Linked DNA regions of Homo sapiens. The protein of the gene in region 1 interacts with the protein of each later gene in a pairwise test. Each region holds a gene or a part of one and is shown in the gene's direction. Other genes may lie near its edges.

Region 1 (4,494 bases):
CCTCTGAACTTAGTTTTTTTCATCCTTAGCTAGTACTGTGTATGTGGAAGATGTTCAACAAATCCTAGTTGCTAAAAATCTGCCCTTACTCACAGGATTCTTATGACTAAGTGACTCCATGTATAGACAATTTCTTTGTGAACTGAAAAGTACAAAAAAAAATAGTTACTGTTTTTTCCTGTCACCTGGCCACTAAACATAACAGCATATAAATGCCAGGCACAGGCAATCACCTTCATTCAGTGATTCTCCAAGGGCCCTGCCCCCGTATCTCCAAGTTTCTTTTCCCTGCTCAGTATCCACCTCTCTCCCTCCTAATTGTTTGGTGTGCCACGCAGATTTCCTCCTCTGTATTATCAGCCTCAGCCTTCTCCATTCAACTCTCCCTTCTTCCAGATTTCAGGGTACCTGTGAGGTAGGAAATGTTGCCTTCTCCAGCCTTGCTCTTTGCTTTCTCCATGATTTCCCTACTCCCCTCTGCAATCTCTGTCTTTCAACATCCCCACCATGTTCACCAGTGGAAGAGATCAGTTGGTTAAGTTGATGTGATTACAGTAATTTTTGTCTATGCTTTGTCAGACTGGTGACAAAGCTATGTCTCTATAGCTCAGCTCTGCTTATGTTTTTACCAGGTCTAAAATACTTTGTTTCCCATTTTCCTTCAGGATAAAATTTAGACTCTTTGACACAGAAAATCCTTAATGCTCTAATACTTGTCTCTGTCTTTGCAGTGACATTCCCTCCCTCTCCCCTTCACAACCTAAATGCTACACTAAGCTAGTGGGTCATGATTGTTTGTTCCCTACCTCATTTCATAAAAAAATTTGAGCAGTACACTGTGTTTTCTCATACCCCTACTCTAAATGCTCTTCTCTCCCCTTCTTTACTTTCTAATGCCTATGCATCCTTTGAGATTCAGTTCGGGTATTACCTTTTTTAGGAAACTTTCTTTGTGGGTTATCATAGCACTTCTACCATAGCCGTATCATGCTCTATTTGTTTTCTATTGCTGTGTCACAAATTAGCACACATTGAATGGTTTAAAACAACACACATTTATTATTTTACTGTTTCTGTGGGCCTGGAGTACAGGCACAGCTTAGCTGAATCCTCTGCTTAAGGTCTCAGAAAGCTGCAATCAAGGCTTTGGCTGGGCTGCATTCTCATCCTAGTGGTTTGAATGGGGGAGGAATCTGCTTCCCAGCCCAGTGAGGTTGTCGACAGAATCCATTTTCTTCTGTCTTTAGGAATGAGGGCCCTGGCTTCTGGCTGGGTATATGTGGGAGGCCTCCCTCAGCTGCTGAGGGCTGCACACAGTTCCTTGCCATATGGGCTCTCCCAGCCTGGCCTCCTACTTTATCCAGCAAGAGTCTTTAGAGCAAGTCTGATAGCAAGATGGAGTCATATGTGATGTAACATAATCATGTGAGTGAGACCTTATCACTTGCATCCTATTTTATTGGTTAGAAGTCATGGGTCCTATCCACACTCAGAAAGGAGGAGTTTACACTCAGGTGTAAATACCAGGATGCAGGGATTCTAGGGGCCATCTTGGAGTCTGTCCGGCACACATGCTGTGTTATTACTCTCTTTACTGCCTGTCTCCTTTGAAAAAGAGTGAGATTCTTGAGGGAAGGGACTGCTCACCTCCCAGTCTTCCACAGCACAGTGGTTGGCATACAGTAGCTATCAATGAGTAAGTAAATAGTAGGATGAAGTAAAATTGTCATGTTTTTATCTGCCTTGTGATTTGGGGGAAAAAAAGGTGAAAACCCATGATAAGTGGGGAAAAGGCAAGTTGGAAGAGACAACATTTTAAGTTTAATGTCCAGAAACTGGTTAGCGCTCCAGTGCTGAGCCTTGTCCTCTTTAATCATGGAATAGACTCCTTTCTGTCTACTCTGGAAGAAACTATACCTGAGAGGTTGTGGTAAATTTGATTATTGTTCAGAAATATTAATTCCTGCTCCACCTACATGAACAAAACATGTTTCCTTGTGCCTTGACTTTGAGCTTTTCCCTGTGACCTGTTTTCATCAGTGGAATATTAGTGGGTGCAGTGTGCCCCCAGGGTTTGGAAAGGGTTTGCATGATTTGGCTTGCTCTTTTTCTCTTCTGCCATCATCACCAGAGCGTGCCTGGACTGGCCCTCTGATCACAGAGAAAGATTCAAGGCATAGATCTGAGCTTGCCCACCCACGTTTCCCAGCCATTCCCCAGCCAAAGAAGCCAACCACCTATTGACCTGCTGACATGTGACCAAAACAAATACTTATTGCTGTATGTCACTAAGATTTTGTGGTTGTTTATTATGTAGCAAGAGAGTTATTATGTAGCGAGAATGAACTTATATAGGATATCAAAGGGAAGTATGACTCAGAAAAGGAAAGAATTGTGTGTCCCTCTTTTGCAGAGAAGGATGGCATGTCATAGTTTGCCAGTGGGAGAAACTCACCAGAGATTTGGCAGGTGGGAGGGAAGTTGAGGACATTATGCTTGGGAAGTTGTTCATATCAGGCATGGCGGGTTCCTCAGATATGGCATTTTCACACATCTCTCCACAGCCTCACTTCACAGACATGGTGGCTGCACAAATATCCCCATGAACTCATTGTTTTTGTCCCACTTTGGGTGGCTAAATGTGTGCAGCCTCTTGTACTCTATGAGCTCCTGGTTTCCCACTCGTGTCAGTGCATCAGACTAAAGTGGGTCACGACTCTTTTTTCAATTCTCCAGCTGTAGCTTCCAGATCTTCACTCCCCTGGGTCCTCCCACAGCTGGATAATCCCACATTCCTGTGTTAGACTCTCACTCTTGTATTACTTGTAGTGGCTCTGTTTTCCTAACTGAACCCAGGCTGAAAACAGGACTGAATAGAAATAAACCATTTGGCAATCATCAAAGCCCATCAGTCAGCACAGATTTTAATATCTTTATTAGCTAAACTATTTTCAGATTAAAAATAAATTATCAGAGGCAGAGTTTCCATGATCCAACCCAAGAAAGGCATGGAAAATATAAGGCAGTTAGAATTTGTGCTTCCATAACTTATTTTGTTAACATAGTAACAAAATCCCCACCTTTATTACTGATTCCAACCACCAAATCCAAGGTGTCTCAGAGAGATTTATAATGCTTAAGATTTCCTGGAGGAGAGAAATTCAAAATAATATTGTTTTTTATGTTCTAAAGAAACATTTCTATATTTATTTTGCATTATAGTCTGCTGATCTAGCCAGGTTTCTTTTTATGCTTCCTGGGAGTTTTTAACAGGGCAGGAACTAAGAAGGCAAATAGTCAAGGTGGTTGATTCCCAACTTTCATTCCACGCCAGCAACTCACGTCAGCCAATCATGGTGATCCCATTTCCCTTCCCAGTAACTAGTTTAGAAATGGGGCGGGGCGCAGTGGCTCACGCCTGTAATCCCAACACTTTGGGAGGCCAAGGTGGGTGGATCACCTGAGGTCAGGAGTTTGAGACCAGCCTGGCCAACATGGTAAAACCCCATCCCTACTAAAAAAAAAATTAGCTGGGCATGGTGGTGAATGCCTATAGTCCCAGTTACTTGGGAGGCTGAGGTGAGAGAATCACTTGATCCCAGGAGGCAGAGGTTGCAGTGAGCTGAAAGCACGCCACCGCACTCCAGCCTGGACAATGGGAGTGAAACCCTGCCTCAAAAAAAAAATTAAATTAAATTAAAATAAAAGAAATGGCATGTGACAGGATCCTGCTTGAGGGGAAATATGCTGGGCACTTCAGGGGATGGTTTTGCCGTCCACTCTTAAAAATGAGATCTTGGTGAGAAGATCGCTTTTTCCCCTGGATGTTGCTGTGTCCGGTGTGGTTACTAGAATGGCCGTAGCTCTCTTGCTATGCACCTGAAGATGAAGACAACACCTCAGTTAGCAAAGCAAGCAGTAAGAAGAGCTGTGTCCTTCGTGACATTGTGGAGTCACTGAAAACATTCAGTCTTGCTCTCCACTCTGGCTTTTCTCTTATGTGAGATAAAACACTCTCCTATTGTTTAAACTGGGTTGACTTGGCTTTATATTTCTTGTAATCAAAAGCATGTGGAGTCAGAAAGGCCCAAGCATGGTTAGAAAGAACTGGAGTTAGTCCATCAATAATATGTTCATGGAAAATAAATAGATGCTTTTCTCAAGGCACAGACAGAATTTAGTTTTAAATTAATTACAACTAAATATTAGTACCGAAAGTACAAAAAATTAAAAATCACTGTGGGCCTCAGGATAACCATAGGATAATGGTGACTGTGTAAACTCACATCTCTCTGTGTATCTTTCTCTCTTTGTTTTGTTTTGAGAGGGAGTCTCACTCTGTCACCCAGGCTGGAGTGCAGTGGGTCAATCTCAGCTCACTGCAACCTCTGCCTTCCGGGTTCAAGTGAGTCTCCTGCCTCAGCCTCCAGAGCAGCTGAGATTACAGGCTCCTGCCACCACACCCGGCTAATTTTTGTATTTTAGTAGAGACAG
Region 2 (5,371 bases), on another chromosome or scaffold:
CCAAACCACACACACTCCTGTCTGCACGTGGCTGCCCCGGGCCGTGGGAACAGCCGGTCCTGCCCTCCCCTCCCCTACCTGACCGGTCCTCCCTGCCCCCAACCATCTCCTCCCGTTCCTTCCCCCGCAGAGAGCTGGGCAGGCTGGAGGACCGGGAGGGTTGAAGAGTGACCCCCGCAGCCCCCATACCTCTAGATAAATCTGAGCCTCCAATACCACTCACACCTCAAAATGTCTCCCGAGGGGACTTTTACATCCTTTAATCTCTAGAACATGGAAGTAAGGGGTCTAGAAGACAGAAGTAAGGGGTCCCATTTCACAGAGGGGACACTGAAGCCCAGAGAAGCTCAGAGGTTTGTCTAGGCAGACGGAGGTGCTGGGGTAAGGAAAGGGGAAGTGAGGACCCCAGACAGCAGCTGAGGAGGAGTCCATGGGCACCTGGTCCCCCGGGCTTGCAGCGATGTCCTTCAAGTCTCTGCAGTGGGGGTGGCGGCAGGGACTTGGCCCCAGGCTGTGTTCCCCAGGACTGTGGGGGGAGGAGGGGGAGAAGGCAGCTATGAGGCAGAGACAGCCCTGAAAGTGGGGAAAGGTGACAGGCTCACACCCCTAGAAAGGAGAAAGGGAGAGGGTGGGGGGTCCCTAAAGCACTGTTCAACTTCCTTCTCCCCATAAAGTGACATCCTCACTTCTGCCCCCTCCTCACCCACTTGGCCCCAAATGACTGAGTCCTGAGGCTCCTGGGGCTCTTTGGGGTCTGCTGGGTAAGTGTGAGGTATCCTGAAGGGGGCCAAGGCCAATGGGGGACCTGGAAACTAGCATCAGAGAAAGTAACAAGTCTAGGCCTGCTGGGGGTGGGAGGGGAGAGATAAGGAGACCAGACTTTGGAGGAGGGAGGGGACTTGGCTGCCCTAAAGGGAGGGTCAGTTGTCAGTGTTTCGGGATCCTGGACCCCTCTAGGGGACAGAGAGAGGTGGCCAAAGCAGGCCAATGGATCCAGTTAGACAGCCCTGATCTACCCTGCCCAGGCCTGAGCCAGCTCCAGGATCCAGGTCAAAGACTTCAGCCCACCTGTAGAGCACAGAGGGCTCTCTAGGCTGGCTCAACTCCAGATGGCTCCACAGACCAACCTGGCAGGGTCAGCCCTGGCCCCTGACTCGGAAACTCCAGGACCCAGTGCCAGCTGCACCACCAACCAGCTGGGTGACCTTAGTGAAGTCATTTCCCTTCTCTGGGCTTCAGTCCCATCATCTGCAAAATAAATGACAAATAGAGTTCATCTCATGTGCCATCTCTGCTCCAGGGCAGTGACTTCCTGGAGCACTGTGTTGAGGAGGATTCTGAAGTTGCATCTTGGCTTAGCGGTAAGGCATGCCGAAATTGATTAGTAATGCCTGCTGTGGGTGCTAGGAGGACAGTAGTGGTATGCACTCATATATTTGACATTCCTGCTCTAACTTTGTCTGGCAGAAGAGGCGGCGTGGACCAGATCATACAGGGCCTGGTCATGCTTAAAGAGGGATAACATTAGGAGATATATCTAATGTAAATGATGAGTTAATGGGCGCAGCACACCAGCATGGCACATGTATACATATTTAACAAACCTGCACGTTGTGCACATGTACCCTAGAACTTAAAGTATAATTTTAAAAAAAGACTATAATGTCAGGTCGTGATTAGTGCTATGAAAAAAGAATTCAGTAAGGTAAGGACAAAGATGGGCTTTTTAAAAATAAAGTGGTTGCGGCCAGGCACAGTGGCTTATGCCTGTAAACCCAGCACTTTGGGAGGTCGAGGAGGGAGGACTACTTGAGCCCAGGAGGTCAGGTCCAGACCAGCCTGGGCAACACAGCGAGGCCCTGTCTCCTCAAAAGTTTTGTTGTTGTTGTTGTTGTTGTTGTTTAAGCTGGGTGTGGTGGTGTGTGCCAGTAGTCCCAGCTACTCAAGAGGCTGAGGTGGGAAGATCGCTTGAGCCCAGGAGTTCAAGACTGCAGTAAGCAATGGTTAAGCCACTGCACTCTAGCCAGGACAACAGAGCAAGATCTTGTCTATAAATAAATAACTAAATAAAGTGGTCGGGAAGGTGTCTCAGATAAGCTGACATTTGAGCAGAGACCTGTGCTAAGTGAGGGAGTGTGCCATGAGGATATCTGGGAAGAGCACCTTGGGAAAGGGTCAGCAAGTGCAAAGGCCCTGGGGTGGGAGTGTGCCTGGCATGCTTGAGAAAGAGCAGAGAGACCAGGGTGGCTGGAGTGGAGTGGGAGAGGGGTGAACACATAGGAAATGAGGTTCAGAGGGTAGATGGGGGCCAGATCAGGAGGCCAGGTGTTAACTGTGAGCAAAGTGGGAGCTGCAGGAGGAGTGAGAGCAGAGGACAGATGGGATCTGATTTGGGACTGGGAAAGGCAGAGAGGCTTGCATGGCAGTGGGGCCCATGCCTGCCTTCTGGTCAGAGTAGATTTCGGGGAGGGCCTGAGGGACTCCTCAGGTCCTGTGCCAGCCTGGGCCCCCAAGAAGGCAGAGCTAGGGGTGAAGGCTGGCTCCCCTTCCGGGAGGCCCGCAGGCAGCGGTCGCTTGTCCAGGCAGGAGGATGTTCTCACTGACTCGGAGGAAACAGCGTGTCCCACATCAAAAGGGGGCCGGGTGGCTCCCACGCTCAGGGTTCGTGGGAACTCTGCTACCCTGGGTTCTCGCAGGAGGCCTGCAGTTAGAGAGAAGCTGGAGACTACCTCGGGACTGTCCCCCAGGCTCACTGATGGGTAAATAAATAACAGTCCCACAGTGACACCCCACTCACAGTGCTCTTCCCAGGAGCAAGACTGACTTTTGTAATCTAGGGCTATGTGGTATTTAAGGGGCTCCAGAAATTTTAGGGCAGCTGAGATCTAAATCCTTCCCTTCCTGGAGTACCCTCTGTCTAACTCCTAGACCAAACACTCAGCAAGAGCAGGGTTACCCACTGGGCCAGACTGGGCATTATATAGACCTGGGGTAGCAAACTGGCTATACTGATTGATAGAGGCTGCTTGGAGAGCTGTACTGAGGACTCTGCTAAGCTTGAGAGAGTGCTGTGATGGATTAGTGATGTCTGCCACAGGCAGGAGACCAACCAGTGGTGGTATGCATGCTCAATATTTTTCTTTCCACCCAATTTATAGGTAGTCCTGGAGAAAAAAAGAGATACTTTCTTCTTGTGAGGCAGAAAGGAAGAAAGAGGGGTGAGGCAGACCTAGACTTAACCAGGTTGTCTGCACTAGAGGTGCTTGAAGAATGGGCAGGAAAGAGGAAAAGCTTGAGGGAAATGCCTCTATGCATTCCTATAAAAGTATAGAGAGGGAGGAAGTTAGAGTGGTGACAGCTGCCCCCCTGAGGAAGGCCCTGGAGGATTATGACAGACCCTGAGAAGGGTCAAATGAATACTCAGTGCCCCTCTTCCTGGGGCCCCCCCGCAGGGTGCCCGACAAGAAAATCAAGACACCTCCACTCTCATCCCTGCGCCAAATGATGAGCTTTACATGTTTTAGCACATTTAACTTTCACAGGACTCTATCCCCATTACAGGTGGGGAAACTGAGGCACAGTGCTTTCTTCCCACCTCCACTGACCAGGTCCTGGGGGACCCAGGGTACCCGCCATCCCATCCTGCCTCCCTCGGGAGCTGTGTTCATTGACTTCCATCACACCGGCGCCTCCTCAAGGGGCTCAATCCAGATGTCTGCTCCAGACCTCTCCACAGCCCTCAGAGGGGTCTGGGATGGGAGTCCTGGCCACGTGATACTATCCTGTATAGCCGAGCAGCCACCAAGTGGGTGTGTGTGCGCTGCACCTGTGTGCATGTGTGATTGTGCCTCTGCATGTGTGCAGGTGTGGGCCTCCCAGGCTGAGTGTCTGTGTGTCAGTGTCAGGAGGTGTGGGTCAGAGCATGTGCGCATGTGTCCTCGTGTGCAGTGAGTCAGCGTGTCCTCCTGCGCCCCCATGCATGATGTGAATCAGTACGCACGAGTACTTCCCCACAGGCGGTGCGGAATCGTGTGTCCGCGTGTGGACGGCAGGCCGTTCTGCAGGCTGCAGCGCGCCGGGGGCTTGTAGGGCTGAGCGCATGCTCCTCTGGGTTTGCTGCCCACCTTACCCAGCTCTGTGCAGCTGGGGAGAGGGGCGGCAGTAGCAGGTGCGGTACTGGTCTACATGAGCCACCGACTCTTGTCCAATGGAGTATCCTCCCAGGGGAGAGCTGTGTGTGCTTCTGTGTGTATGTGTGTGTCCCCGTGTGTGCACAAGTCTCTGTATGTAGGTGTGGGGAGGCATTCCCTGGAATATGTGAGTGTGTGTGTATCTTAATCCATGTATGTTTGTGGGGGGCGTGCCCTGAAGTGTGCCTGTGTGTATCCATGTATATGTTCATGGTGTGCATTCCCTAGTGTGTGCGGTATGTTCCCCAAGTAGACGGATGGGGAGGGAGGCTCCCTGGTATCTGTGTGTCTGTGTGTGCATGTATCTGTGATGTACTCCCTGGGTTGTGTGTGTTTGTGTGTCTGTGTACTTAAACATGTGTGTGTAATGTGTCCCGGGGAGTATGATAAGTCTGTGTGGTCTTCTCCATGCATGTGTGTATATTTGGATCTGTGGATCTGTGTGGATGGTGTGTGCCCTGGGTGTGTATGTCTGTGTGTCTGCACCCACTGCAGCAGTACCCAAGCCTGCCAAGGGCACCATTTGCTTGAAGATGCTTTCTGGTGCCAACTGTGCCTGCCAAGGACAGGTGACCAGACAGCATTAGACAGGCTGTGACCTGAACAGGCACGGCCAGAGCCAAGGGGGCTGCTGCAGCTCCTTCTCCAGCTGTCACTGCTCCCAGCCCTTCCTGCCCCCTCTCCTGGCACATCCCCCAAGGCCTTCAGGCTGACCCCTGGATTTCAGAACACCCCTCTTCATCAGAACGTATCCAGCCTGGGTTCCATGCCCATCAACAGCAAGACACCAGTTCCCCTGCATAAACAGGTGCTGAAGTCAGGAGGACTCAGGCAGACACACTGTACACATCACCGCAAGCTCTCCTTCAGTCCTCCCAACGACTATAAGTGAGGTGTTAATATGCCTGTTTTACAGATAAGGTAACTGAGGATCAAGAAGTTAAGTGACTTGTTCAAGGTTGTCACTGCAGCAGTTTTGTGGTTTCCTCTCTAAGATGGAGAGAAGTTACACCAGGACTTAGTGCCTGGGAAGCAAAGAGGTGAAATTACTCGGCCAGGATTGCACAGCTGACAGTGATGATACCGATGGCTGTGCTTTTAGTAGCTGTTAGGTACCAGGAACTGTGCTTGGCCCTTGACACATATAATTTCACGGAATCCTCACAGCAGATTAAAAAAAA
Region 3 (5,371 bases), on another chromosome or scaffold:
TCTCTACTAAAAATACAAAAATTAGCTGGGCGTAGTGGTGCACACCTGTAGACCCAGCTACTACTCGGGAGGCTGAGGCAGGAGAATCGCTTGAACCCGGGAGGCGGAGGTGCAGTGAGCCGAGATAGCGTCACTGCACTCCAGCCTGGGTGACAGAGTGAGACTCCGTCTCATTAAAAAAAAAAAAAAAAGTTAGAAGACTGAGAAAAGAAAAATAATGAAATAATTTAGAGCAGTCTGAGCTATGTGAGGTATGCAAAATTTATCAGGACAAGTGAGGCAGGAGTATAGGTCTTCAGTTAAGACCCCATGTTTAAAAGCATTTTGTTCCTGACTGGCTGCCTCATCTATTACCTACATATTCCCGAGATTTGTAATACAAAGAACAATGTATAGCCAGTCAAAAGCTTATGCTATTTTAATGTAAATTCTTGGCAAACAACTTTAAAACTGCTTTAAAACTGCTTTTTTTCCTCTAAACAACCACTTGTAACTGCTTGCTAATGAGGGCAACTTGAAACTCTGCACTTGGGTTGCAGTTCTCAAACGTGGCCCAAACAACCTCAGCCTCAACTTCTTCCTTTTAGGTCCTCTTTTCTTCAATACAAAATGAGATAATAGGGGTTGGAAGGAAAACCTTCAAGACCTATGGAAGTCAGTTGCAGCCAGCTCATCACATAGAGGTGCAGGTGAGGTGTATTTTCATCACGGTGGAAAATTCTGGCTGCTTCATCTCCATCTCTAGAGCCAATATTGGAGCTTTTCAATAAAAGCTATGGCCTCAACCACCAGCACCAAGAAGATGATGGAGGAAGCCACCTGCTCCATCTGCCTGAGCCTGATGACGAACCCAGTAAGCATCAACTGTGGACACAGCTACTGCCACTTGTGTATAACAGACTTCTTTAAAAACCCAAGCCAAAAGCAACTGAGGCAGGAGACATTCTGCTGTCCCCAGTGTCGGGCTCCATTTCATATGGATAGCCTCCGACCCAACAAGCAGCTGGGAAGCCTCATTGAAGCCCTCAAAGAGACGGATCAAGAAATGTCATGTGAGGAACACGGAGAGCAGTTCCACCTGTTCTGCGAAGACGAGGGGCAGCTCATCTGCTGGCGCTGTGAGCGGGCACCACAGCACAAAGGGCACACCACAGCTCTTGTTGAAGACGTATGCCAGGGCTACAAGGTGAGTGTGTGGGCCCGGGAGCTTTGGTAAGTACCAAGTCTTATCCTGCTCCCCAGGAGCTGAGATGATTTAACTTGAAACCTAACATTATGACTTGGAAATACAGCTTTCATCATGTCATTCTTCTGAAAAATAGTTTATGATGATTTCTTGCTCAATTATCTAGACTGTCCATCCTGACCTTCAATGGGATGGTTGGACTCTTATCTCTATCCATTTGTGTTATGATGAATTTCTTTTTGCTTTAGAACAGGTTGTTCTCAAACCAAACACCCGCATTTTTTCTTGTTTCACACCATGAATATCATTTGAAAAACCACAATATGTAAAGCCATGCAGTAGGGCCTGAAAACAGGGAAGAAAGACCCATCACCTTTTAGGTATCTACAGTCTAGTAAAGAAAACAAACCATCAAAAATGTCTGCCTGGAGGTCCCTGGTTTTGGTGGTGGGGAGGGACATTTAGGGTAGAGAGTGGTTCATCTTAGAAGTAACTCCTGAAGGACACGTAAAAATTGAACACCTATTGGGGGATTTTCATTTGGGGAATGAAGGGTCAGTGACATTGAAAATATCACTCTGGTACCTCTACTTTTTTTTTTTTTTTTTTTTTTTTTTCCTGAGGTAGGGTCTTGCTCTGTATCCCAGGTTGGAGTACAATGGTGCAATCTCGGCTCACTGCAGCCTCAACCTTCTGGGGCTCAAGCAATCCTCCCACCTCAGCCTCCCAAGTAGCTAGGACTACAGGGATGCCCCACCATACCTGGATAATTTTTTTATTTTTTGTAGAGACATGGTCTGCCTTTCTTGCTTATACTGGCCTCAAACCCCTGGTCTCCCTCCCATCTCAGCCTCCCAAAATGCTGGGATTAGAGGCATGAACCACTGTGCCCAGCTACTGTGGCATGTCTATGATAAAAGGAATATCAAGGAGTAAAATTCAAACTATCCGTATAAGAAAGGGAGGAGAGGGCAGATTTTAAGCACGATTCAGGAAGAAGAGTCAAAGATTTGGAAATGCTTGGTTGTGGAAGGTGAAGCAGAGGGAGAGGTTTTGTGTACCATCCAGATTTCTTGCCAGAAAGCATATTAAGGAAGGTGGGACTTTGCTGTTGGCAGCATGGAGGAATGGGCATAGTCCTGATGTCCTTTTTCCTTCTCTGTCCTGCCTAAATTTGAGGAAAATGTTGTCTCCAGTGTCAGGCTCCTTATTCTGTCCTCCATGAGGCAGAGGTGGTCTTGTATGAAGGCTCTAAGTCCTTCTAAGGACATGTCAATCATGACCACCACTCAGCTCATGGCAGCTCTTCCTTAAACTCCATGGAGCAGCTAATAACTGCGATGATCATATTCCCATTTGAATTACTTTTCCACCAAGTAGTAAGAAAAGGAACCAGCTTATGTTGAAATTGAGTTTTGTCACTTACTAGATGGGCAATTTTGGGCACGTTACTTAATGTCTTCACACCTTGGTTTCTCCATCTGTAAATGGGGATAATAGCAGTGTCCTCCCTCCCTAAAACACATACACAGGAGGTGGTTATAAGCTTTGAGGACATTAAAATATAGAATGCATAGAATAGCACTTGGCATATAGTAAGGACAATGTCATCTTTTGCTAAAACAGTTACATAGAACCTTTTCCTGAGAACACTCGAGAATGAATGAGTATACTTGTTGGGTTTACAGAGGACAGGAGACAATTCTTTCAGCATTGACTACAATTAGCAATTTGGGTCAGCTTCAAATCACTTTCAATAGAAATATGAGAAACTGTTTTGAAGAATAAGCTAAAAGCTTGACATGAATACTAAATCATTTTAAATTGGATTCATGATACCATTGTTCAAAAGATACCAGAATTCCCCTCTTCCATGAACTGTTTCTAATAACCAGCTGGCATCCTGATTTTTCCTGACTCATAAGACACAAAATTTCATGTGTGCCAAACACTGGTATTGGTTTTGCTTGGTTCAGCATGTTGTTTTACAAAATCTTTTAGATGATGATTACCTTGTTCTATATCCAACTTTTTCCTGGCAGGACTCTAGTGGTGGACATAGCTCAGGCTCTGGGTCAGCAGATGAGATTGCAATTGTTGCTCCACCACCTGGCAGTCATAGCCCTTTGGGCAAGTTATTTTACCCCTTTCTTAGTCTCATTTTCTACAGCACAGAAATGAAGTTTAAAATCCTACCAACTATTCAGGGTTGCCAAGGGGATCAGTATGTTCCTGCACATATAGCCTTTAGCATGCTCTCTAGCAAAAAACAATGAGGACTCTATAAATATTCACTATTATTCAAATATATCTTAGAAGATTGGGATTCCCCCTAGGTCCCTAATGAAGAGTCAAATTGAATAGGCTTCACTTATCAAATTTTTCCTTCAGGAAAAGCTCCAGAAAGCTGTGACAAAACTGAAGCAACTTGAAGACAGATGTACGGAGCAGAAGCTGTCCACAGCAATGCGAATAACTAAATGGAAAGTAAGAATCTGACTTCATTGATCTCAAGCTATTTTCCATTCTAGAGCTTAGGCATAGGGGATGATTGAGGAAAAGCACAATGAGGATTTATTCTCACTAAACCAGATTGAAAAAATGAAACCCAAGGAAGAAACCATTATTTGTACTTATGCCCCTGGTTCCAGGTTTACATCCATGAGTATTTAGCACCAATCTTTCCATCTTTAAACTGTAGTTGGCTGGGATTCCTGATACTTCAGTCAGAAGAAGCAGAATTAGTATGACTATTTACCTAGAAAAAGCATCGAGTGGGTCTCAAACTTTAAATACGTCAAAATAAACCTGGTTTGCAGGCCTCAACTCATTACCCTGGCACTTTTACCACAGTGGAGCATCTGGCTCTCAACTTTACAGGTACAGAAACCAAGCTTTGTGAACACTTAGAAAACAGGATCACTCCAGATTGAAATTCATACTACTCTAGCTCATGAAGCTGATGAAAGAAATATACTTTATTTATTTATTTATTTTTAAATTATTACTATTTTTTGAGATGGAGTCTTGCTGGAGTGTAGTGGTGCGATCTCAGCTCACTGCAATGTCCACCTCCCGGGTTCAAGCAATTCCCCTGCCTCAGCCTCTTGAGTAGCTGGGATTACAGGCATGTGCTACCATGCCTGGCTAATTTTTTGTATTTTAGTAGAGACGGGGTTTCACCATGTTGGCCAGGATGGTCTTGATCTCCTGACCTCGTGATTCACCCACCTCAGCCTCCCAAAGTGCTGGGATTACAGGCGTGAGCCACTGCACCCGGCCTATACTTGATTTATAAGTACATCACAAGTAATGCAACAACCTACACACTTGCAACTACAAACTTTCAGATTATTTCCGTGGCTGACTAACCTCCACATTATCAGAGCCACATTCTTTTATGGAAATATTTAGGTTTGTGCAAAAGTAATTGCGGTCTTTGCCATTAAAGTAAAGGCAAAAACCACAATTACTTTTGCACCAATCTTTATATTTATATAATTCACTAGCTTGCAGTAAAATCCCACAAGCTGATTACCAATTTTCTCTCTTTCAGGAGTCCTCTCTAACCTCTACCCTGATCTTTGTTTGTGGATGTTGCTCTTGAGCTCCTGAGTACACTCTTACTTCCCCCATTTCTAGGATCTTGGGCAATGGGGAAGACCTTGATTGTAACTAACATATATGAAAACCCGTCTATACAAGAGTTAAAGCTGCACCTGTCTCCTACACAAAAATTCCACCTCATCCTAAGTCAAAGACCCTTCTTCTATATCATAGTCATCAAAACACTGTATGAATTTATTTTTATTTTTTAATTTTTATTTTTTTAAGATAAGTAGAGAGTTTATTTGGGCCAAGTTTGAAGACTGCAATCCAAGAACATAGATTCAAATTGCCCTGAATACACACTCCCACTGCATTAATTTAGACAGCACTAATGGAAATTGCAACTTTACATCTCCTCAGATGAGAGTTTCACTTGATTTCTGTCAGTCTTACACATAGGAATGCTTAAGATGACCCTAGGGTAGTAGAACAGTATTTCTCAGTTAACCATAATAAATGCCTGTCACACTCAAAGCTCCCCCTGCCAAGAATTATGGACCCTCTTACCAGCCTGGTTGTCTTAAAATCCAGTCTGGGTGATGTTCATTATAAGCTTTTACTTCAAGAAAATCGCTC
Region 4 (5,371 bases), on another chromosome or scaffold:
ACTTGTACAACACATTGTGATGTCAGTCCCGGTTAGCTGTCTTGCTCTTCTCTTTCAAAATATTCCTGCATAGTCTTATACATTAATTTTTCCGAATTCATTTTAGAAGAGTTTGTTTCTTCCTTTTATTTTCCAATTCACATTTTACCACACAGAACAGTTTGTGGCCAGCTTCTTTTATGAAATTTTATTCTTCAGTATTTCTGCTGCCCCAGTGCATCTTTATTCCCCAAAGCACAATATTTTGTTCTTTATTTTTCTCTCCTTTTTTAGAGAGCAGATGTTGCTGTGTCTTTGTGACAAATAGCCCTTCTTCCGCAAAGTAATGGTTAATTAATGTATGATGCCCTCCCACAGTCCACTTGCCATAACATCTGACAGGGAACTGCGATTTCTGTATTGAAATGTAACTGTGATGTTTTCAGTATTTTAGTGTTTAGTTGGGGGGGGTCTTTCCAGAAAAACAGAGCATTTCATTATCTTGGAAATAATTTTTAATTCATATATATTAAAAAGATACATAAAATCAATAGAAGGCAGGGGACCGATAACAACTAGCATTTAAATTATGACATGTTCAGGAGTAGGAGATGGAAGGGGGAAGCAGCAAAGGGATGGGCCAAGGAATGAAGAATCTAGGATTCCCTGATCAATACTATAGGCACTTAGAACATCATTCCTTTAAGGATTGCAGGATAGAGAAAATACAGAATTCAAAAAATGCACATCCCAATGGTGCAAGCAATATAGTAACTAATAGATTGTCCTGAGAAACACTGACCAAATCTGTTGAGGATAAGACTAATGAGACACGCTTTTGTAGGTACACAAAACAGAAACAGAAAATAGGCACAATTAATTAAGTCTTGCTCTTCCATTATTATTTAATTCACTTATTCATCTAACAAATAATTACAGTAGCTACTCGGATATCAGTTTCCTCCTCATGTATTCATGTCCCATTTATTTTAATATTCTTATATGTTGACAAAATATTTGTTTATGGACTAGTGAACAGGTCGAAGTATAAGACATGATTGTAACACCAATCCAAGGATGAACACTATCATATTCAAGTGCACTGTTTGCATTGACTCTTTTTCAGTTACAAGAAAAAATAATAATTTTTATATTTTTTTAAATGACTCTTTTCTGACATTTTGGCTCTGAAAAAAATGTAAAGAAGGGGTCAATGTCAGTGTGATAATTCAATCAAAACTGTCTCTCTGATATTTGAAAGAAAATTCTAACTTTCAGCATAAGTTGTTACCTCTCTGTAGCTCCAATTTTATGACTGGATTTTAATACTTTGGGATTTCTCACTAGCTGCTTTACAACTGGGTCTTGGAGAAAGAGAGATAAGTGACTTGCTTCGGGGGATACATCGAGTTCAAACTCCCCAACCAGGAACAAATGACGAAAATGAACATGTTGAAGAAGATGGGTACATTAAACAGAAGGAAATTGATTCAGAGGATATCTGCTCTATTTGTCAAGAGCTACTTTTAGAGAAAAAGCTTCCTGTCACCTTTTGCAGGTGATGTACTTTTTCTTTAGATTCTTAAAACTAATTAAAAATTCTAAAACATATTTCTGATTTATTACCTTAGGAGACATGATAGGGAAAAAATAGACAACTTTACCTACTGCTAATTTATACTTAATTAACATTCTTTTATTTCCTAACACACACACATATATATAATATATATAATATAAATATATTATAATATATTACAATATAAATATAATATCTATAATATATAAATATATATCATAGAAATATATATATTATATATAACATATATGTTAGGAAGCAACATATATATGTGTGTGTATATATATGTTTTGAGCTAAATATATGCTCTTACTCTAAATCTTTCTGAGCTACACTACAAGGGTAAAAACTGAAACATAATTCCACAATTATTCCTCTTCCCACCTTAAGTAACAAGGGTAGAGTAATTTCTGTGTTTTTATTTTATACACATGAATAAATGTGATGGTTTATTATAGTTATAAAGACTTTTCTGAAAGTAAAGATTATTTTACTTTGAAATTACAAAAATTATTTTTAGTTTTTCAAAATTCTATCTTTAAACCTAAATAATTCAATTTTCACATATGTACAAATCTTTTTTTTTTTTTACTCATTAATGCCAACAATAATATTTCTTTCATCCCTTTCATTCTGTCTACATAACCAATTCTTGTTTTGTTAGACCTCAGATCAGCTGTCTACTTTTATTTTATTTTATTTTTAATTTTTTTATTATACTTTAAATCTTTATTGAGAGTCTAATGTTCATACTTTTCTTCACAGCACTATAAAGTTGGACTTGAAAAATTTGGACAGTCATTTTCCATTGCAATTTTTTTCTCCTGATCATTCTTTTTTCTTCTGATAATTTAACAAAACTTTTGTCCACACTGTAGTTGTTCATGTGTCTGCTTCTATTGCATATTGTAAAATTATTAACTACTTTCCAAAATGGTATTTCTCTCAGCAGATATTTCTTTGGTACTACCATGTATTGTGTGACTTCTGGAAAAGTATGGTGGCACCCCTGCTCTCAGTGAAGCATTTTATTAAAATAATAATAATTATTATTCTCCTTTGTGTTAAGCCTATATTCATTCTCACTTTACAAATGAAAATATTTTAATGATGCAAAATCTTTCACCATTTCATTGGAATGAAGGAAAATTTAAGTTTGGAATTCTGATGTATTAAAGATGATAGATTACTAGAATGAGTGAGTGTGTGTGTGTAATCAAGCTATAGCTGAAAATCAGTTCAGAATCTATTTTTTTGTGGAATAAAGATGGTAGCACAGGAAATTTTATTTATATAAATATATATATAATATATATATATATATACAATGGATATGTAAAACTGCTCTATACAAATGGTAAACTTCAATTTTATCTCTCATAGGTTTGGCTGTGGCAATAGTATTCATATAAAATGCATGAAGATCTTAGCTAATTATCAGAGTACATCAAACACTTCCATGTTGAAATGTCCTCTGTGCAGGAAAGAGTTTGCACCATTAAAACTGATTTTGGAGGAATTCAAAAACTCTAGCAAACTAGTAGCTGCAGCAGAAAAAGAGAGACTGGACAAACACCTTGGGATTCCCTGTAATAACTGCAAACAGTTTCCAATTGAGGGGAAGTGTTATAAGTAAGTGTTATCCGTAAATTATAAGCATGTGTTCTTTTTTATTTTTTTACATCAGGAAACTTTGAGCATTAGAGTACCCGTTCTGTAGCCTCCCTCTTCCTGCATATACTGTTTGACTTGTGTGACGACTGCTTATTTAGGACTCACAGACTGACTTCTATCTCAGTCCAGTATCTCAGGAACTCCAATCGTTTTATTTTCTTCTCCTGTTCAAGGGTATTGGTTTGAGCTCTGGTCCAGATTGGGTCTGAAGTAGCACCCCATCCTAGAAGCTCTGGACACAGGATAGGTGGCTTTAGCCTACATAGGTTTCCAAGCTTAGAGCCTTGCTGGATCTCTCACCCTCTGTAACTTTCTTTGAACTACCTTTGAAGTCATTGCCAAAAATTCCGAAGATTGGGCCAGAGAGACATTGACTGGATTGACTGAATATTTAATCCAGTCCCCCCTACTCCAAATGGCAATGAGTACAGGTTTTGTTTTATTTCATATCTTATACTTCAACAACTACAAAAACATAGTAATTATTAGAGCAAACAATTTTCACTGTGAGTAACCCCCAAACTTTCCCACAATTCTCACGATAAAACATAAATTAATTGCTATGCCTAGGAAATTTGTATTTTCTTAATTAAAATTTTAAGTTAACAGTACATTAAGAAGAAAACATTATTTCAATCTTTGTCACATTTTTTTGAAATGTATCAGTTTATTTTTCAGCCTTCTTGAATTACATTATGATGAGCCCAATCTAATTTATATATATATTAAAACTCTGTCATAAAACCGTAAAACATTATCACATCCAACAGCAAATTATACCTTTCTCCTTTGAATTTAGTTTTGTTTTCTGTATGTGTAACACAAAAGAAAGTTGATTATTAACAAAAGTATTTACTGGAAAATGGCTGGCCTGAGAAGGCTCCTAGGGAGGATTCTAACTTGGGGTGGAAGTACAGAATTTTTATAAATTTTTAATAAGGGATATTCAGCTAGGTTCAGGAATGTTGGTCAAAGAGGATTCCAGGAAAAGGAAGGACTTGATCTTTGGTATTAGCAGCCATCGTATGGGCATTTAAATTTTCTCAAGAGGGGTGGATAGGACCAGTCATGGAGGGGATAAGGTCACATGTAAAAGTGGGGGCTGGGACATGTGGGGGAACAAGGACATGTGAGGGCCACAGTGTAAAATTCTCAGTGCTTACAATCAATGTTCCCCAAATGGTTTACAGGCAGCTTTAGTACAAATATTGCTTAGGTATGTTGTTGATGACAGTGCACTCCTGTCACTCAGAGCTTTCTGACTGCTCTTTCTGTCCTGGGGCATTATTCTTCCTACTAAGTAAACACATGGCCCACTATCCTGCCCCCTGCCCACTAGTGACCCTACACTCCCCTTTGAGAATCTTTTCTTGTCTCATAACTTCTCCTCTACGGATCTGGCTAACAATTACTCATCTCTGTCTCCATTCTCTTTTACAAATTAAAGAATGCATTTTCAATGTGTGTGACTCCATCCATCTTCCATTCCCTTGAGTACTGACATTTCAGTCATCAGTCTGAAAAACTATTTCCATTTCCTTTAGGAACACATTGAGTAGGAGACAAGATTAACTAGAAAGTTTCTTCATTCCTTCTTCATCAGAATTTCAGAATTTAACTACTTCATCTTTTAAGAGGTTAATTCCGAAATTACTAGATATATGTTAAAATACAGAGATGCTTAACTTTTTTTAGCCCAGCATACTTTGATGTATTGAATAAATGGCACCATTTGTCCAACCCATTGGTGTTAATTATTAAAATCTTCCCTGTATGTACAAAGAGTAATAATGAATAAATTAGCAGTTGCTTCTTTTAAGATGTCTGAGGGACATATTTTCTTAAATTTCTCATGGCAATAATCTTCTAAATATTTGATAACTTGAATAATAAGTTTACTTGACTACTGCTCAGAATATTTTCAGTTTGGTAAATTATGTTGCAAGTAATTTAAAATCCTCTACTTGTGACAAAATTTTTATAAACAATATAACCTTGAGATTGGGCTTTTATGGAAAGTGGGTTTTTTTGACTTGTCAATAGTTTTTATTGAGATCTTTTATATGTTTACCTTTTTCCATTCTGTGGGGAAAAAATAATATAATTTTTATTTTCAAGAAGTATGCTGCCAACTCTAAC
Region 5 (5,371 bases), on another chromosome or scaffold:
TGGGTTAAGTGTAAGAAAACCTTTTTACAATGAGGTTTGATACACTATTGGATGAGGGAATAAATACAGTATTACTTTTTTTCCTGGAAATTTTTGAAATCCAGATTTTAAACTTTTCAGATGTCTTTTTTTTTTTTTTGAAACAAGTTCTTCCTCTGTCACCAGGCTTGGAGTGCAGTGGCACAGTCACAGCTCATTGCAGCCTTGACCTCCCGGGCTTAGGCAGTCCTCCCACCTCAGCATCCTGAGTAGCCGGGACTACAGGCGCATACCACCACAGACAGCTAATTTTTTTTATTTTTGTTAGAGATGGGGTCTTGCCGTGTTCCCAAGGCTGGTCTCAAACTCCTGGGCTCAAACAATCCACCCACCTCTGCCTCCCAGAGTGCTGGGATTATAGGCATGAGCCATCAAGCCCGGCCTGTCTTTTTTTCTAATAACAGGAAATTCCTTTTGTCCCCTAGCTTTTAATAATAAATTTTAACTATAAATTGTATTTGTCGTGTTTCAGGTACAATATTTAGATCATGGATTCACTGAAAAGATTCCGCAGTGCCATCTTTACCCTATTTTGCTGTATCCTGATATACCCCAGTTTTGTATTCCTTGTCAGCTCCATAATACCACACCTGTGAGTACATAATAATTTGTGGAATGATTAATTTTAAATATTAGTTTTTATTAATAATTTTTTAGAAATATTTAGAATGTAAAATGAAATTTCAGTTGCAACAAAAAAGTAATAAAACACCAACAAATAAGTTACTAAGACAGCTAAACAGCCTTTATGAAGACAGTTACAAAATTATACTCAAGGCTGTAAAACATCTGAATAAATGAAGAGACATGTTCATAAGTAGGAAGGTATAAGATTGCAAAAGTTTTATTTCTTTATCAAATGAAATTACAACAAACTTGAAGCTGGAGATCAGATAAAAGAGTGTCTTATTCTGTATTGCTGCATAACAAATTAAGCTGAGACTTAGTGGTCTAAAACAACAATAAACTTTCATTATCTCATGCAGTTTCTATGGTTCAGGGATTAGGAGTGGCTTAGCTGGTTTGTTTTGACAAGGGGTCTGTATTAGTCCATTTTCACACTGCTATAAAGATACTACCTAAGACTGGGTAATTTATGAAGAAAAGAGGGTTAATTGACTCACAGTTCTCCATGGTTGAAGAGGCATTAGGAAACTTACAGTTGTGGTGGACGGCGAAAGAGAAGCACATACCTTCTTCACAAGGTTGCAGGAGAAAAAGAGATTGAAGGGGAAACGGCCACTTTCAAAACCATCAGTTCTTGTGAGAACTCACAATCAGCATGGGGGAAACTGCCCCATGATCCAGTCACCTCCCACCAGGTTCCTCTCTCGACACATGGGGATTACAATTCAAGATAAGATTTGGGTGGGGACACAGCCAAACCATATCATGGTCCCTTGTGATACTGCCGTCAAGATGTCCACCATAAGTGTAGTCACCTGAAGGATCAACTGGGGACAGAGGGTCCACTTCAGATGGCTGACTCACATTGCTTTGGCAGGAAGCCTCACTTCTCACCATGTGAACCTCTCAACGCATAAAGACGCAACAACCGCTATTCCTTAATGAATACATATTGTAGGCCTTGTACAAGCACTGCATTGGCATATTGGTCTTTTTTAAAAAGTCTTAAATGTAATGTTTTGTTTTTAAATGTAGGGTGTGTGTGTGTGTGTGTTTTCTCACCTCTGGCTGAACAGGTTTATATTTTTAAAGCATAAAATGAGTACTCAAATTATTCATTTTTAAAGATTATTTTTATCATGTACCTATGATATTCTCTGAGAACTGCTTGTGTATTTTGTACTACTATCTGATATTATTTGTTTATGGCTACTTTTGTGTATCTTAATTTGCTTCCTGCTCTGATTTTATGAAAGCATAAAAGAATCTGAGTTTATTAATCTCAAATAGGTTGGGAATGTCTGGCAACCAGATGCAATAGAAGTTCTTCAACAACTGCTTTCAAAGAGACAGGTGGACATTCACATTATGGTAATTTAAAGTATATATAGTTGTTATAAATTACTTGCCATAAAATATTATAATTAACATAATTTGAGGGATATTTTTGATGATAAGCAATGGTATATACCTTCTTATGTGAATTGCTTGTTAGCATAAAAGAAACTACCAGTTTGGTTCCTGCGCCTGCTTTAAATAAGCCTGCTTTTGAACAAGTTCCTGAGAACTTTCATAACCATTAAAGTCACTAATTTGAAAGATTCTTTATTAACAGCTTGTTTTGTTACAGGGAGCAGTATTAAATTGTTGGACATGTTTATAATTATATGTAGCAGTTTCCAAGATGGTGCTGAACACTCAGCACTGTCTCGGGTCCAGGTAATTCTGGGAGTCTATCATGATCTGTGTCCTCAAAGCCCTTATCTGGTTAGTGAAACAAGGCAAAAACCTAAAACATTTGCACTACAAAGTAACATGCCAAGAGCTAAGTGACTGGTAAAAAGAGTAAATGTAATAGGAATTTAGAGATGGTGAGAATTGAGGTAGCCCTTGTAATGTTCTCCTGACTGGGGAAATGAAATGCACAAAGGTACAGAGAGACATTTTAGGGAAATGGTGTAACTGTTTGACTTGAACAGTGGAGGTTTGGTGAAGAGTAGTGGTAGTGAATAGCATTCAGGAGAGGTAGGGGCCGGTTGGTGGGGTTGGTAGGGAGAGCCTCAGTGGAGGTTTCTGAGCAGTGAGGTAATAAGATCAACCTGCAGCTGCTATGTTTGCAGGGCCTGAATGGGAAGATATATGGTAAGGAAAGTATTTCTGTATTAAAGGATGATGATAGAGTGATAAAAACCTAAAGGAGGCACACACTCACTTACATAAGAAAGTGGCTTTTGTTAGTACTAAGAGTCCCTCCCTAGTTACTTAGTCTCCATGGCAAGTCACTGAAATATGGTAGAGATTGAAATTTTTAGTTTGTCTAGACAGCTTTCACTGCTTCTTCGCTTAATTGACACAGAAGAATAGCTTGTGGTATAGCAAAGGCTGCCAGGTGTCTCAGAGACCACGAATGTGCATGCCACACAACCCAGCCGACAGCAGGCCTTGCCCAGACTCACTCCTCTCCCTTGTACGCAAAGGGAGATGCTGACAGAGGGCCTCTTAGGTGCTAGCCTCTGCTCTAGGCCTGGACACACAGCTGGGGGCTGAGCAGTAGGAAATCCCTGCCTTTCTAGAGCTTCCATTTCAGTGGTGGGAAAGAGAAAATAAACTATGAGGAGTATTAGATTAGATAAGAGAGAGGCTGATAGGAATGGCATGGCCAGGGAGGAGGTTCCACTTTAAACATGCATCTGGGAAGACGTCGCTGCAAAGGTAACATTTGAGTCAACACCTTAAAATGGTTAGAGGACAGACCACACGGGTGCAGGGAGATGAGTGCTGAGGCAGGAGCAGGGCTAGGAGGGAGGGGACTGCATTGGCAGAAGAGGGAATGGTAAGAAGAGATAGGACAAGATCTGCTGGGAGGCAGCAACAGTAATTCAGTGAGGAGCAGTAAAACAGTGAGGAGCAGTGAGTTTGGACAAAGGTGGGATCAGTGGAAATGAAGAGAATTGCTGTAGGTCAGCTTATCAGTTAGGGACACATTCAGCACCCAATAACTGTAAGTGAACTTTATTCAGAGTTTTAAAGTTACCATGATTCCTGCTTTTAGACTGTTTCGAGTCCCACCAATTTTGGATTTTTAAATGAAACTTTATTTCTTCACCTCTGAACGTAACCTTTTCTTTCTCTTTGTACGTAGTGTAATTTATTAGTATCATCTAAAGGTGATGTATTTGGGAATTGGAATTATATATAACTAGTTATTTTGTGGTAAATAACTAGAAAACTCTATGAACTTGAAAGTGTATATTACATAAACCAAAGTAGTAGAATTACTCCCTTATAGCGCGTCAAAATACCAGGAAGAAAATTCTATGAAATGAGTCACTAGCCAAACTGTCTAGTTAATACTATGATTGTCAGAAGCTAAATTTGATATTTGCTGACTATAAAAATGTCATCAAGTGGAGTTTATTTTTATGATTATCTTTATTGAACTTTAAATAGGAGTTACCTAAAAATCCATGGGAGAAATTGTCTATTCACCTCTATTTTGATGGAATGTCACTTTCTTATTTTATGGCATACTATAAATACTGTACTTCTGAACATACTGAGGAGATGTTGAAAGAAGTAAGTGCACTATTTTTCTATAAAAATCTAAAGTGTAGAAAAGTCTAGTTAAAATGTCACATTTTGTCTTACACTGTGTCTTAAATATGATTCTACATATCTGATCTATTAAGAGAGTCTAGAGGACTTACACATTTTTGCTGAGAAAGATGAATAGGCTGTGTCATGCATTATAAATGTCCTGTAAAAGACTTTAATTACATTAAGATTCAATTAATGTTTCTGTACCTTCAAACCTAGTGCGATGCCCATGCTATTCAGTGTTGTTTGAATTAGAGATGCACATTCTAAAATCTTTATAGAATTCAGTACCAGCAGAGGGCTCTTGCTCCAGATAAAATATTTTTTCCTTTTACTTGACACAAAAGCCGTGTATTACAAAATTTCTCTCATTTGCCTTCTCACAGGAAACCCAGAGTCACATTTTGAGCTTAGCTTCCATAAGTGGCTCATTCCTTGCCTGGTGCTTCTGTGGTTTAGTACTTTAAAAAATATAGCCTGTTACAAGATATGGTTTCACATTTCAAGCTGCTATAAATCTTTTATAGGAGTAGATTATGCATCATTATATTTTATATCACAAGATATTTTTATTTCTAGAGTTGCAGTCTACTTGTTAGACTCTTTAATATTCATTTTGGTGGTAGTACACAACCAAACATTGTTCTATGGATAAAGAAAACTACTTTCTTCTCTCAAATAGAAATCGTGCTATAACTTTGTTCCTGTAATCCTCACTGCCAGCTTTTTCTTTAAAGCAGAGGTGTGGTTGTTGTGGGTGAGTGGGGGTGTGTGTGTGTGTAAAAGAAGTTACGTCTGTTATTAAACACGTTTTATAAAGATTACTTAGTCTTTCTGTTCTAGTTGTACTATTCACTGTGAACATTTTAAAGGGAAAGGTAAGAACTCCCACTCTTATAATAAATGAATTAGCTTTGACATGTGTTAACATGTATTTGAGGTTTCTTATTGTTGAAAACTTATGGTGAGATTATTCAGAACATTAGATTTTCCTGTAATTGATCTGAAATAAATAAATGAATACCAACAAGGAAATGCACCCAGTTTTTGTGGGGATGAAATATGGAAAGTACCTTAAAACAATATAGCTAAAGGTGATTTTACTCAA
Region 6 (5,061 bases), on another chromosome or scaffold:
TCCGAGTAGCTGGGGCTACAGGCACCCGCCACCACGCCCAGCTAATTTTTTTTTCTATTTTTAGTAGAGATGGGGTAGACCAGGATGGTCTCGATCTCCTGACCTCGTGATCCACCTGCCTCAGCCTCCCAAAGTGCTGGGATTATAGGTGTGAGCCACCATGCCAGGCCAAGTCAAAGTTTATACCCCAAATTATAAGGCCTTCCCTTCCCAGCCCACTTCTACAGCTCTTATCACAGAATTCTGGCAGCAAAGATCACACCCCACAGCGGAATGTGAGATAAGTCTTCTCTGTAGAAACTCGAGAACCCAGCAGAAAAGACCTATGGACACTGATATGGTTTGGCTATGTCCCCACCCAAATCTTGAATGGTAGCTCCCAAAATTCTCTTGTGTTGTGGGAGAGACCCAGTTACCAGAGATAACTGAATCATGGGGGCAGTTTCCCCCATACTGTTCTTGTGGTAGTGAATAAATCCCATGAGATCTGATGGTTTTATAAGGGCAAACCCCTTTCACTTGGTTCTCATTCTGTTCTCGTCTGCTGCCATGCGAGACATGCCTTTCACCTTCTACCATGGATTGTGAGACCTCCCTAGCCACATGGAAATGTAAGTCCATTAAGCCTTTTTCTTTTGTAAATTACCCAGTCTCAGGTGTGTCTTTATCAGCAGCGTGAAAACGGACTAATATGGACACCAACATCTGGGGGTCTCCAAGAAAAAAGATGGGTTCCAACTGAATCACACAAAGGACAGTCCAGTGTACAAGCCCAACAATACCGATGGATTCCAGCCAGCTTTTAGGCACCTCACTCTGAAGTATAAACAGCTGGAGATAACCAAGTATTTTAGAAAAGCTTCCAACATGAAAGATGGGATGATAACAGTTGAAGAAAAATCTAGAATTACTATCCTAAGAGAAAACTGACAAATGATGAATTGTTCTTTACACTGTAAGCTTATTCATCACATTTCCAACAGCTGAGGATGCCTTGGTGTCTAGGAAGAGAGACCCACACAACTTCTCCCTCATCCCACAGCAGCCAGTGTTTTGGGGGCACTACAAGTGAGCTGAATCTCATCTTCCATTCTAGTAAGTAAAGAGATAGAACCTAAATTAGAAAAAGAAATTGCATGTAACACTTTATGACATGCACTGGCTAAATAAGAACTAGAATCCATTTACATTATATAAATGAATTATTTCACAACTTGAAGATAAACTCAAGAAAAAAAAGGGTTAAAAATATTTGAAGGCGGGGTGCAGTGGCTCACGCCTGTAATACCAACATTTTAGGAGGCCAAGGTGGGTGGATCACCTGAGGTCAGGAGTTCCACACCAGCCTGGCCAACATGGTGAAACCCTGTCGCTACTAAAAACACAGAAGTTAGCTGGGTGTGGTGGCACACACCTGTAATCCCAGCTACTCAGGAGGCTGAGGCAGGAGAATTGCTTGAACCCGGGAGGCAGAGGTTGCAGTGAGCCGGGATCATGTAACTGCACTCCAGCCTGGGCGACAGAGCGAGACTCTTTCTCAAAAAAAAAAAAAAAAAAAAAAAATTAAAAATGATTATCTTAGGTACCAGGAATTGGCGTGTGGAGGGGCCAGGCAGGGGACAGCCAATTTCCATTACAATAAGTGCTTGATAATATTTTTTTAAATGTTTACATGTGTTACTTTTATTTCAAAATGAAAGCCAGCTACACACCCACAGGTGCAGTGTGATATGACAGTCTTTTAATAAAGGCTATATTAAAAGAATAGACACAAAAGTGTTGACAGTGGTTATCTTTGAGGGGAGGGATTATAGGCGTCTTACTTTTTGCTTGTATCTGTTTTTGTTTTCTGCACTGCGCGTGTGTTGCTTTTAAATACGCATTTCAAGCGCCTGTGTTTTAGGATGAGCACCACCGGTTCGCTATGGCCTGGAATGATTCCACCCGTGGCCTTTTAGGAATCTGTTGAAAAATGAGTGTGCACTGAGGGAGCTGAGGAGCAAGTGAAGATGACTCTCTCAAGGAATCCATCTGAGGGCCAGGAGGCAGGTCAAGGGAGGGAAGGGCGGGAGAAGCCTTTTTTTTTGGTTTTTTTTTTTTTAATTTGAGACAGGGTCTCGCTCTGTCACCCAGGCTAGAGTACAGTGGCGTGATCTCGGCTCACTACAACCTCTGCCTCCTGGGTTCAAGCGATTCTTCTGCCTCAGCCTCCCTAGTAGCTGGGACTTCAGGCGCACGCCACCACACCCAGGTAATTTTTGTATTTTTAGTAAGGATGGAGTTTCGCTATGTTGGCCAGGCTGGTCTTAAACTGCTGACCTCGGGTGATTCTCCCACCTCGGCCTCCCAGTGTCCCGGGATTACAAGAGTGAGTCACCGCGCCTGGCCTAGCAGAAGCTTTTCTTTCACTTGCTTTTGCTTTTTAGAACTGGGAGGGCCCACGCCCCACGTGCAGCGACGCAAGGGCGACGCAAGGGTGACGCACGCCACGGCCGTTGGGAGCCTGAGACTCAAACATGGCAGCGCCACCTTCTCCAGGAAGGACGGCCGACCAAGCAGACCAGGTATGCACCTTCCTCTTCAAAAAGCCTGGACGGAAAGGGGCTGCAGGCCTCAGAAAGCGCCCGGCCTGCGACCCCGAGCACGGAGAGAGCAGCAGCAGCGGGGACGAGGGCGACACAGTGGCTCAGCCCCCGCGGGTGGCACCGAGGCCCCGGGGCCTCCACAGCTGGCAGAAGGCGGCTCACGGCGACAGGAGGGGCGAGGAGGCGGCGCCTGAGAGCCTCGACGTGGTGTACAGGTCCACCCGCTCGGCGAAGCCTGTGGGGCCAGAGGACATGGGGGCCACCGCTGACTTCGAGCAGGACACCGAGAAGGAGCACCATACGCCGACCATCCTCAAGTGCAGCCAGCGGGTCCAGGAGGCACTGCGGGGTCGGGAGCACGACCACATCTACCGGGGAATCCACAGCTACCTGAGGTACCTGAAGCCCAAGGACACGTCCATGGGCAACTCCTCCTCGGGGATGGCGAGGAAGGGCCCCATACGTGCGCCAGGGCATCTGCGCGCCACTGTGCGCTGGGATTACCAGCCTGACATCTGCAAGGACTACAAGGAGACTGGCTTCTGTGGCTTCGGGGACAGCTGCAAATTCCTCCACGACCGTTCCGATTACAAGCTCGGGTGGGAGATTGAACGGGAGCTTGAAGAGGGTCGCTACTGTATCTGCGAGGACGAAAACCATGAAGTGGGAAGCGAGGAAGAGGAAATACCATTCAGGTGTTTCATATGTCGCCAGGCCTTCCAAAACCCAGTCGTCACCAAGTGCAGGCATTATTTCTGCGAGAGCTGCGCGCTGGAGCACTTCCGGGCCACCCCGCGCTGCTACATCTGTGACCAGCCAACCGGCGGCATCTTTAACCCCGCCAAAGAACTGATGGCGAAACTGCAAAAGCTTCAGGCTGCAGAAGGTGGGGGCAAGTCCCATTTCACAGAAGACCCCCATGAGTGTCCAATTCCCATGGCTTAGGTTTCCCATAATTCTCACATTTAAATAAATTTTTTTGTTCTTTTAGGAAAAAAGAGATAAGAAAGACTCAAGTCTGTATGTACACTGGGGAGAAGCAGCCTGTTGAGTAAGATGAGAGAGATGACAGTCTTCCTGCAATCCCATGCCTGAGTATGTAACCAAAAGAATTGAAATCCGGATCTCAAAGAGGTATGTGCACTCCCATGTTCACTGCAGAATTATTTGCAAAAGCCAAGAGGTGTAAACAACCCAAGTGTCCATGGATGGATGAATGGACAAACAAAATGCGATACACACACACAATGGAATGCTATTAAGCCTTAACGGGAAGGAAATCCTTTTAAAGATTTAAACTGATCCTTTTAAGGATCACATGCTACAACTAGAATGAACCTTGAAGACGACACTGCTAAGTGAAATAAACTAGTCACAAAATGACCAATACGCTGTATGATTTTTCACTAATATAAGGTATCTAGAGTTGTCAAAATTACATAAAAAGTCGAATGGTGGTTGTCAGGGGTTAGGAAGAGCGGGAGTGGGGAGCTGTTGTTTAATGGGTACAGAGCTTGAGTTTTGCTAAATGAAAAAGTTATAAAGCTCTGTTACACATCAATATATATATACCTAATATGAGTGAACACTTAAAAATGGTTAAGGGTACATTTTATGTTTTGTACTATAATTAATTTTTTTTTTCAAAAAAGCTAAAAAGAGATATCAGAAAAGGAAGAAATGATGGAACCAAGACCGGGAGGGAGTGGAGAGGATGGGGTTCAAGAGTTACCAAAACAGCAAATAAAGGATATCAGTTAAGAACCAAGGAGGGGAGGAGTTGACAGAAGAATATCCACGCTGAAGTTTGGATTTGATTTTGTTTGGCTGATGTTAACATCCTCTCCCTTAAAATGGCAATGTATTCCTCTCCCAAGACAAACACCAACAGATCCACGCTGAGTTCCTCACAGCTGATGAGTTCCTTACAAGGAACTGACACAGATTATGTAAATTTTCATAAGAGCCTATCTCATATATCAACTTTGGCTGTGAATTCCTTGAAGACTGAAACCATGTCTCACATACTTCCTGTTTTTTAATGGCCAACAGGTAGCTCAATAAAAAGTCAGTTAGTGAAAAGTCAGTCAAACCAAGCTACCTAGCAGTCGGCTATGCAAGCAACTGCGGCAGAGCGAACTTCGGCAAAACTTTCCACGTGATTTTGACCTTGAACCACACCCATCGACCCACCCACCACCATGGCCAGGTTGCAGACAAAAGCAGAGCCGTGGTTGAGGGCACAGACCCAGGAGCGAGATAGGATTCAAGTCATGGTTCTACCAGTTACAGCTGCGTGACCTTGGGTATGTTACTTTACCTCTCTGTGCCTCAGTTTCCTCATACATAGTAGTATCTCACAGGGTTGTTTTGAAGCAAAAATTAACATATTTAGAACAGTGCCTGACATACAGTATGTGCTATCAACATATCGATTATTGTAATTCAAGCAGGGAAAATGGCAGCTTGATAGTCG

The links.
Region 2: the proteins of UBE2U (region 1) and DTX1 interact in a two-hybrid assay, tested with the Homo sapiens proteins (one large-scale study listed by BioGRID and IntAct).
Region 3: the proteins of UBE2U (region 1) and TRIM38 interact in a two-hybrid assay, tested with the Homo sapiens proteins (one large-scale study listed by BioGRID and IntAct).
Region 4: the proteins of UBE2U (region 1) and ZSWIM2 interact in a two-hybrid assay, tested with the Homo sapiens proteins (one large-scale study listed by BioGRID and IntAct).
Region 5: the proteins of UBE2U (region 1) and RNF17 interact in a two-hybrid assay, tested with the Homo sapiens proteins (one large-scale study listed by BioGRID and IntAct).
Region 6: the proteins of UBE2U (region 1) and RNF113B interact in a two-hybrid assay, tested with the Homo sapiens proteins (one large-scale study listed by BioGRID).

Annotation. Positions count from the first base shown.
Region 1 is NC_000001.11:64,261,275-64,265,768, forward strand, and holds part of UBE2U (ubiquitin-conjugating enzyme E2 U), read left to right. Parts: intron 1-4,494. UniProt on the Homo sapiens protein: Catalyzes the covalent attachment of ubiquitin to other proteins.
Region 2 is NC_000012.12:113,086,964-113,092,334, forward strand, and holds part of DTX1 (E3 ubiquitin-protein ligase DTX1), read left to right. Parts: intron 1-5,371. UniProt on the Homo sapiens protein: Functions as a ubiquitin ligase protein in vivo, mediating ubiquitination and promoting degradation of MEKK1, suggesting that it may regulate the Notch pathway via some ubiquitin ligase activity.
Region 3 is NC_000006.12:25,965,748-25,971,118, forward strand, and holds part of TRIM38 (E3 ubiquitin-protein ligase TRIM38), read left to right. Parts: intron 1-587; 5' UTR 588-775; coding exon 776-1,186; intron 1,187-3,577; coding exon 3,578-3,673; intron 3,674-5,371. UniProt on the Homo sapiens protein: E3 ubiquitin-protein and E3 SUMO-protein ligase that acts as a regulator of innate immunity. Acts as a negative regulator of type I interferon IFN-beta production by catalyzing 'Lys-48'-linked polyubiquitination of AZI2/NAP1, leading to its degradation.
Region 4 is NC_000002.12:186,835,125-186,840,495, reverse strand, and holds part of ZSWIM2 (E3 ubiquitin-protein ligase ZSWIM2), read left to right. Parts: intron 1-1,326; coding exon 1,327-1,537; intron 1,538-2,941; coding exon 2,942-3,190; intron 3,191-5,350; exon of another isoform or gene 5,351-5,371. UniProt on the Homo sapiens protein: E3 ubiquitin-protein ligase involved in the regulation of Fas-, DR3- and DR4-mediated apoptosis. Functions in conjunction with the UBE2D1, UBE2D3 and UBE2E1 E2 ubiquitin-conjugating enzymes.
Region 5 is NC_000013.11:24,860,757-24,866,127, forward strand, and holds part of RNF17 (RING finger protein 17), read left to right. Parts: intron 1-511; coding exon 512-631; intron 632-1,956; coding exon 1,957-2,037; intron 2,038-4,116; coding exon 4,117-4,242; intron 4,243-5,371. UniProt on the Homo sapiens protein: Seems to be involved in regulation of transcriptional activity of MYC. In vitro, inhibits DNA-binding activity of Mad-MAX heterodimers. Can recruit Mad transcriptional repressors (MXD1, MXD3, MXD4 and MXI1) to the cytoplasm. May be involved in spermiogenesis.
Region 6 is NC_000013.11:98,174,692-98,179,752, reverse strand, and holds RNF113B (RING finger protein 113B), read left to right. Parts: upstream 1-2,483; 5' UTR 2,484-2,516; coding exon 2,517-3,471; intron 3,472-3,576; coding exon 3,577-3,590; 3' UTR 3,591-3,968; downstream 3,969-5,061.